3 separate regions of the Homo sapiens genome follow, and all the other regions are linked to region 1. The links come from fine-mapping of genetic effects on gene expression. A gene starts in region 1. Each other region holds a variant in brackets. All regions are shown on one strand. Distances are from middle to middle.

Region 1 (2,763 bases):
AGCTGTAAACAAAACGTATCTGTTGTTTTCCATGCTTATGAATCTGGCACTAAGAGACTGCATTAACCAATGCCTTTTTAGGTTTAATACTTACACACGGTAATATGTTACTGGCTTTAAGGACATCAATGATTAAGCTTTCATGCAGAGCTGTACGGTTTTGTATAGTTGGAAAACAACACTGATTTTGAGATCACTACAAGCAAATAAAACTTTTATTCCTCCCAATTATTTACCTGCTTTTCAAATTTTTATAAATTTTTATGACACAATTTCTTCAGTCTATTAAATATTCCAAAAAAGAGGCTAATACAGTTGTTATAAGAAACTCCGCAAATGCAGTCAAGTGTTACCTTGTCACTATAATTAAAGTTTTCTTATGCGAGTAAATGAAACAAACAATCCAGCCCCACACAGGGAAAGCCAGCATTGCCTTGGGGGCAGCAGAACGCGGCACAGCACCGCCCGCCAAGGCCGCAAGATGCCGCAGAATGACTGCTGCAGCAGCCGCTTCCTGGCCAGGTGGCCGTGGCCGTCCGCAGAAAGGCACACTGCAGCGCTCTCGCTATACCTTCCGTGCTGGCATTGCATCAGTGTTAAATCCCCTGGCCACCAACTGCCATATACTTTTTGCTGGTTATGAAGAAACGTGGGGAGGGGACAAAGGGGAGACAGAGTGTGCCTGCAAGTGTGAGAGATCACTATTGCCTCACACTCCCTAAAAAATTTCTCCCCCAAATGTTTATAAGCCAAGTACCAACTTACTTCATCTGCCAGGTCCCTAAATCTGAAATCGCCTTGCCCTTCAAATGCACTAAATGAGTCAGGGTTTTAGGGCAAACCCAGGGATACAAGAAGATCGAAAGTGCCCAATTCTTAGCTGCGAGATAAGCACCAAGTTTGGGGTGGAAGAGTTCACCTCTGCCGACCAGAGCGTACTACCCCGGAGCGCTCCTAGTTTAGAGAGGCTTGGAGAGGAGTGGGCCTCCCGTTCCTGGAGTATCCCAATTCCCAGGGAAGGCCCTTCCCGGCGCTCGCGCTTCAGAGTGCGAGGAAACCCCCACAAGCAATAGCTCACCCGGCTGCATTCTTCAAAGCCCCAACCTCGGGGCGGGGCGCAGGGAGGTGGGAGGTGGAGGGTAGCACCGCCGGGAGGCTCCTGTCAGCGCCTCTCGGTTTTCCCCCTGGCTCCTTGGCGCCCCCTGACGACGGGCTCCGCAGCAATTTGGCCGAGGGAGGCTGGATAGGCGGAAGCTCCGGGTGTCCGGGAAGCTAGAGGCACCCGGCCAATGCACCCGCGGACGGCGCGGACTGGCGGGCGGCCCCGCGGGAGGGCGCTGGGCTCTCAGGCCCGGGTGCAGCCCGCGGACGCCGCCGAAACCGCCGCAGCCATGTCCGCGCGCCCGCGCTGCCGCAGCCTGGCCGTGATGTCATCAGCCGAGCCCCCGCCGCGGCGCCCCATTCCCGCCCCCCGCAGGCTGCCGCGGCTGCAGCCTGAGCGCCGCGTCCCCGCCCCGACCCACGTGCGCCCGGCTTCTGGGATGCTGAGGTCGGCGGCGGCCGCAGGACGATGCGCGGGGCCCGGGCGGCCGCGGCGGCGGCGCTGCTCCTCCCCACTCGCCGCGTCCCCGGCGGGGCTGCGCCCGGGGGCTGCGCACGGACGGGGGCGGGGGCGCCTGGGGAGGGAGGGGAGAGGATCCCAGCCGCCGAGTCGCAGCCTCGTCGCTGTCTGCTGAGTCATGGCAAGCGCTCCCCGCAGCCCTGGATCACTCGCGTAGCGCGGCTGGCGCGGGGTGCGCAGCCATTGGGCTGGGCGCGGGGCCGCGAGCGCCAGGCATGACGCGCTGAGCCGCGCTCACCCGTGCCCGCCGTCCCGGCGTGCGCCCAGCGCGGGTGCCTGTGCCGCCGCCCTCCAGCCCCGCCGTCGAGTCGCCCTCGCCTCGCCCGCACCATGATCGCCGCGGCTTTCCTCGTCTTGCTGAGACCCTACAGCATCCAATGTGCCCTCTTCCTCTTGTTGCTTCTGCTGGGCACCATCGCCACCATCGTCTTCTTCTGCTGCTGGCACCGCAAGCTCCAGAAAGGGAGGCATCCGATGAAATCGGTCTTCTCGGGTCGTTCAAGAAGCCGAGGTAAGACACGCCGCGACGGGTTTCTGCGGGCTACCAGGAACAATTAAGCCGATTTGGAGAGTGAAGCGCGGCTCGCTCCCTTCTCCTCGGCTGCCCCTAGCCCCATCATTGCCCACTCCCCAGGCTGAGTGCGTTTCTTTAACGCCCCTTGCCCTTTTTGCCGTCACCTCCGCCCTCCAGTCTCCCAGGTTTGAATAACCACGGCGATGCCGAGGGCAGGGAGGGGAGGAAAGAACTCAAATTTTTAGTCAGTTTGCTAAAGCCTTAAGGGTAATTTGAGCGTAGTCCGGGGCTGCGCCAGCCTCGCCTTCACGCATCCTTCGCTGGAGCGTAGGGGTAAGAAAGTAAGGCATGGAAACTTCGGGGCTCCCCAACTCCCCCAGAACTTTCATGCAAACTTCTCGCGGAGAAATCACGTAGAGACCGATGGCCCCAGGACTCCTCCTCCCTCCCCCAGGATGTCCCACCGAATTCCAGGAGTCTGCGATGTGCTTTCCCAACCCTGGTCTCCCAGGTAAGTCATGAGTCACTCGGTAGGTGAAGAACAAGGAGTTAAATGAAGTCTCATTTATCTCTTTTCTCCCCAGATGCTGTTTTGAGATCGCACCACTTTCGTTCTGAGGTAATTTAT
Region 2 (2,763 bases), 480 kb after region 1:
TTAAAGGGACAGTTCTCACATGGGCTGACCTGCTGTCAGGCTCACTCTTCCAACCTCCCCTTCACTTTTTACTGCATAGACACTTTGGGCCCTCTCTCCCATACCCCCAAACATTTATCTTTCCTTACCCAGGCTTCTCTCTACTTTGTACTTTTTTATTCATGCTGCCATATTTCCTGGCATAGTTAATGCTATTTTAAATATTAACCTCCTTACCTTATTTGTTAGAACTTATTTTTGGTCAATCAGTATTGTTTCTATCTCTAGCAATACTGTCTCTCCCAATGCTATTCTCCATTAATAACATAATTATATCTAAATTTGGGAGAGTTATTTTTTTGTATAATACAGTTTTTGAAGCATGAAATATCCTATAAAGTTGGCCCTCTGTATCCAGATATTCAAAAATAAAATGGTTAAAAATATTCAAAAATAAAATGGATGGTTGCATCTGTACTGAAGATATACATACTTTTTTCCTTGTCATTATTACCTAAACAATACAGTATAACAACTATTTACAACAATTTACATTGTATTAGGTATTATTAGTAATCTAGAGATGATATGAAGCATATGGGGAGGATGTACTTAGGTCATATGCAAATACTACATCATTTTATATCAGGGACTTGAGCATCATTGGATTTTATTATGCACGGTATCCTGGAACCAACTCCCCTTGGATTCCAAGGGATGACTGTACTTGTATTTTGAAGTACATGTTAGAAAGTACTTTGTTTTCTATTTTGTCCCCTTTTCCTCCCCAATTAGTAGATGATTTTCACTGTGAATAAACCAATTGAAGTTTTTGTTTATTTGTTTAATTCTGGCAGTCAAACAAATGCCACCAGAGTTTTGTTTTCAGCCAATGCCAACAGTTAATTGAAGTCTTTGTTTCTGCTGTAGGAATTCATGAAGAAACTGGAAGAAAAGAGAGCTGAACTAAATAAAGCCACCACTATGGGCGACACCGTTTTGGCTATCTGCCACCCCGACTCCATCACTACCATTAAGCACTGGATAACAATCATCCGGGCGAGGTTTGAGGAGGTCAGT[G/A]TGTCTCAGATAATCTTCAGAGTAGCAATAGCTTTGAGAGTTGAGGGGTGTGGGAAATTTCAGGAATTAAGATGCACTTATGGCCATGGGAAAATGAGACCTCTACATAGAAAACGTTCTTTTAAATACGCTTCTTGTATGCATTACAATCTCTGCAATTCACTTTTCTTTAAAAGCTCAAAGAAATTTTGCAGCTATGTCCCTGGAAAATTAGAAGGCAAATATTTAGTACACTGTATAACATTTTGGCCTCCTTCCACATTGTTTCTGTTGAATAATCCAGCAGTTGGATGGTGTTTCGGAGCAGTATATACTGGTGGAGTGAATTGGTATACATAAAGTGAATTAATTCTGTATTTAATATCTTAGCTTTTTTTTTTCTTTCTTTTGACGGAGTCTCGATTTATTGCCCAGGCTGGAGTGCAGTAGCTGGATCTCGGCTCACTGCAACCTCTGCCTCCTAGGTTCAAGCAGTTCCTCTGCCTCAGCCTCCCGAGTAGCTGGGATTACAGGCGCGTGCCACCATGCCCAGCTAATTTTTTTGTATTTTTAGTAGAGATGGTTTCACCAGGTTGGTCAGGCTGATCTTGAACTGACCTCGTGATCCGCCCACCTCGGCCTCCCAAAGTGCTGGGATTACAGGCGTGAGCCACCACGCCCTGCCAGTATCTTAGCTTTTTACATTTCTACTCTGTGCCACATGGAGTAAGCTTACCTGATCCTTCAGAGAATGCATATTTGAACTCAAATTAGAAAGCAAAAGGAAGCCTGAGTGATTGACATGCATCTTTAAATTCTGAAGATGATGAACATCATCGTGGGCTCTCATGTCCTCCTCAAGCCAGATCTTGATGCCACTAATGGAATCTAAAAAGACCAGAAGCATTATGGGTCTAGCTCAGGATGATCCTAATTTTCATTTAAAATTTATTTATTTTACATCACTGCAATTATTTTACTAAGTTGGAGGAAATTCAGAGAAATTTCTGTTTCTCTGACAGGTGCTGGCCTGGGCAAAGCAACATCAGCAGAGATTAGCAAGTGCTCTGGCTGGGCTTATTGCCAAACAGGAATTGTTGGAAGCTTTGCTGGCTTGGTTGCAATGGGCTGAAACTACACTTACTGATAAGGATAAAGAAGTCATCCCCCAGGAGATCGAAGAGGTGAAAGCACTCATTGCAGAACACCAGGTAAAATAAATATAATCCTAACTCCTGTTAACCATTATCTCAGATATTTTCTTTCTTTCACTGCTGTACTTCTCAAAACATTGCTTTGTTCTCGTTATTTTCACTTCTTCAGACTCCTCAGCTCCTTACAACTGTGTTTCCAACTCTGCAACTGCCCTAAAACCTCTCTTTACAGGAACCCTCTGTGACCTTTGCAAAACTTTCCTTCTTTGTCCTCTGTGGGGTTACACTCGTGGTATTGTCTCACGTTCACTCCTGCCCTCCCTTTTGCCTTCTAAATGTCAGCTCTCCTTACTCCTTAGGTGTTATCCTCAGCTCTCTATTTCTCTCACTCTGTTCCCTCTTTTGGTGATCTCACCCACCTCCACCTCCCTGGCTTCAGTGGGTACAAGGTACCCACATTAAGGTATCCACATTAAATGTGGATGCATTATGTTCACATTGCATTAATCAAACAAGGTTTGATTGCTCTGCATTTTTATGTCTGTGAAGATGACTGTCATCACTTGAAATA
Region 3 (2,763 bases), 620 kb after region 1:
TGCCTTTTCCACAATATCATATAGTGGGAATCATAGAGTGTGTGGTCTTCTGGTCTTCTGACTGGCTTCTTTACTTTCATTTATGTTTCCTCCATGTCTTTTCATGGCTTGGCAGTTCATTTCTTTTTATCAATGCATAATATTCCATTGTATGGATTTACCACAACAAATGTAATTATTATTCCATCCTTGAATAATGGAGTTTATTGACATTATCTGAAAATAAATTCCATCATACCTTATCAAAATTTTCAAATGTGCTGAGAAAAATTTCTTGGATTTTCTGTTTCCCACAAATGTATTATCATAATTTTCCTTATATACCGATATTCTTTTCTTTCATTCAGTTTTAAATTTCTTATTTCCAAATGTATTCTCTCTTCTCTTCTGGAGCATGGAAGTCTAATATTGGGATCCAGCTTCCTGTCTGTAAATAGAGCAATGTAGCTCCTTGGAGATGAGTTTTGAAGTGGTGACCATTGCACAGACCACAAACGTTATGACTCTATCATGTCCTGGAAGTATGTTTCACACACCCATGAAAGTGCCTAGAGCCCCTAGTACTGTAGGCATAAGGAGACATGAATGCTGATTTTGTGTGTTCAATCAACAAAGGGGTCTGATTTCTTTCCACTTGCTGACACCTTGGGCTGACAGAGAACATAGATTACTTGCTCCATGAGCTAACAACTCCTCATGGAAAAATATGCAGGTAATTTTAGACTGGAATCCAACCCAATCTAAAATCACTTGTGGATATTAACTAATTTATCATGATTTTCAAATGACTCCAGTGTGAGAAAAATATTGGAAAACGTCGTTCATTGTTAGGAAGGTGTTCAGTAAGGTATTAACACTAGGGAAAGCCAAATTGCTACTTGAAAATAAACACAGCCAACAGAGAATCTCTGAATTTAAAGGTCTAGTGGGAAACTGATCAAATAAGTGTCTTCAAATAATTATATATGAAATATTCCACTAGTCCTTAGACCTAGCTGGTCCTCCTCTCCCCATCAACCAGGAGAAGTGGTGAAAGCATTAAACTTGGCCTTGAAAAGCTGCTGTCCTTCCCCAGCTGTATGACTTTGTGGCAGGGCACAAAGTCTCCCTCTCCAACCTCTGTATCTGTTTTGTCTCCTCCTCCCTGTGTGCCTTGCCCCAAGTCCCTGCCCCACC[A/G]CAACTTCTCCTTCAAGTTTCCTCCATGTCTTTTCATGGATTGATAGCTCATTTCAGTCCCATGATCTCTGTAGTCCTCAAGGAGAAAGACCACAGCCTTGTGCTGAGAATGGAATGGAGGAAACCCAGAATTGCTCCCAGGTGACTGATGAACAGGCCACTGAAGCGGGAGGGGTGAGGTGGGGCTCAGGAAAAATAAATCTAGATCAAATAAGAGAGGAAAAACAATGTATCTCTAAAGAAAAATATTTTTAATTAAGATGTGTTTGGCATGTACGGTTCTGAGATGGCGTTTTTTTTCCTCTCTGGGGTATTATCCAGTGCTAGGATATTGAGCCTCTCCAATCCTGACTTAGATGTCCAAACTACTGGCACAAGTAATCCCATTTTTTCCAAAAGTGTGATATTGACTGCATCATATTATCTTTTGGAGGTTTTTCATTTGTGACTAGCTGCTTGCATTTATATATTTTTTCCGGTATTCTCCCTATAAACTTATCCATTATACAGAAAACATTAAAGAATGATGACAAAACCAGATGTGGAAGGTATACTTTCAGTTGAGTTAAAGGGAAATATTTTTCTTATGATTCTGGAAGTAGCCAAAGCTGGTTTAGATTCCACTCATGGTGTCTGCACAAGCTTTAGTTCTCACTTTAACTAAACACTGGTGAATATAAATGTCTGGAAATCTACTATAAAGTTCAAAAGAATGTGGCTTTCAAAAGTGAACTGAGTCGCTTTAATGAAGTGTGTGCTACCCGGAGTTTTTCCTTCACTAACAGAGAGAAAACCAAAGATTTGGTAATATTGACTATCAACAACATAAATTCATATTCTAGATCAGTAATTCAAAACTCTTTTGTTTTTAAGACTATTTCAGGGGTGGAAAACCACATGAATCCTCATTATACCAACAAGAACCACAACTACAAAATAATTCTGAAAGACCACTAGCAAAATAATAAGGGTAGTACTACTTTCAGACACTGTAGGAGGTTTTTATTAAACGCAGTAATAAAATTTATGTTGGATAATAAAACATAGACGTTGCCATCTAATAAACCTTTACTAATTTTAGGAAACCAGCCTGTGAACTAAAAACAAGTCCCTCTGACCACCAAACAGGCTCCCATAGCCTGCAGGTAAAGCAACCTGATGAAGGAAGAAGGCTTTGGAGCCAGGTCTGGGTTCCATTCACACCTCTGCCACTTGATAACTGTGGTTCCTGGGGGGAAGTGATGCAGCTTTTCTAAGTCCAGTTTCCATCTGAGAGGATGATGATGATGGCTAATATGTAATATGCTATGCTTCATACATGCTACAGAGTAGTTCCTATTGGCTTGGGAAATGGCTACTAGAGACAAGAAATACTCCCTTTTATAAAGATAGTTACAAAAAGAGATCTGCTAAGCAGTCTTTTTAGGGATCATAAAGAAGCATGTGAGCTGCTTCTGCCACCCCAACCATCATGGGACCACCTTTCTCCCCAGAAGTCTATATAAGCAGGAGACAAGAAGATCCAGGGACTCATTCAAGAGAGGAGTTGAGAATCCAGTATTTATAGTGAGCCATTACTTTCTCCCT

The links.
Region 2: its variant is fine-mapped to the expression of BEND6 in coronary artery (GTEx, PIP 0.97).
Region 3: its variant is fine-mapped to the expression of BEND6 in kidney cortex (GTEx, PIP 0.94).

Annotation. Positions count from the first base shown.
Region 1 is chr6:56,953,776-56,956,538 of GRCh38, reverse strand. It overlaps BEND6 (BEN domain containing 6), which reads right to left and starts at 1,432. Exons shown (of 7, transcript NM_152731.3): 1 at 1,079-1,432. DST (dystonin) reads left to right here and starts at 1,709. Exons shown (of 104, transcript NM_001374736.1): 1 at 1,709-2,132; 2 at 2,720-2,754. The coding sequence starts at 1,952. RefSeq lists a silencer at 1,244-1,933 and an enhancer at 2,095-2,726.
Region 2 is chr6:56,475,635-56,478,397 of GRCh38, reverse strand. It overlaps DST (dystonin), which reads left to right. Exons shown (of 104, transcript NM_001374736.1): 91 at 910-1,053; 92 at 2,061-2,249. Among named protein-coding and RNA genes, the nearest start is that of COL21A1, 230 kb to the right of the region's middle. The variant G/A (reference allele first, on the strand shown) is at 1,060.
Region 3 is chr6:56,338,770-56,341,532 of GRCh38, reverse strand. It overlaps a transcript of COL21A1 not described here. Among named protein-coding and RNA genes, the nearest start is that of COL21A1, 93 kb to the right of the region's middle. The variant A/G (reference allele first, on the strand shown) is at 1,177.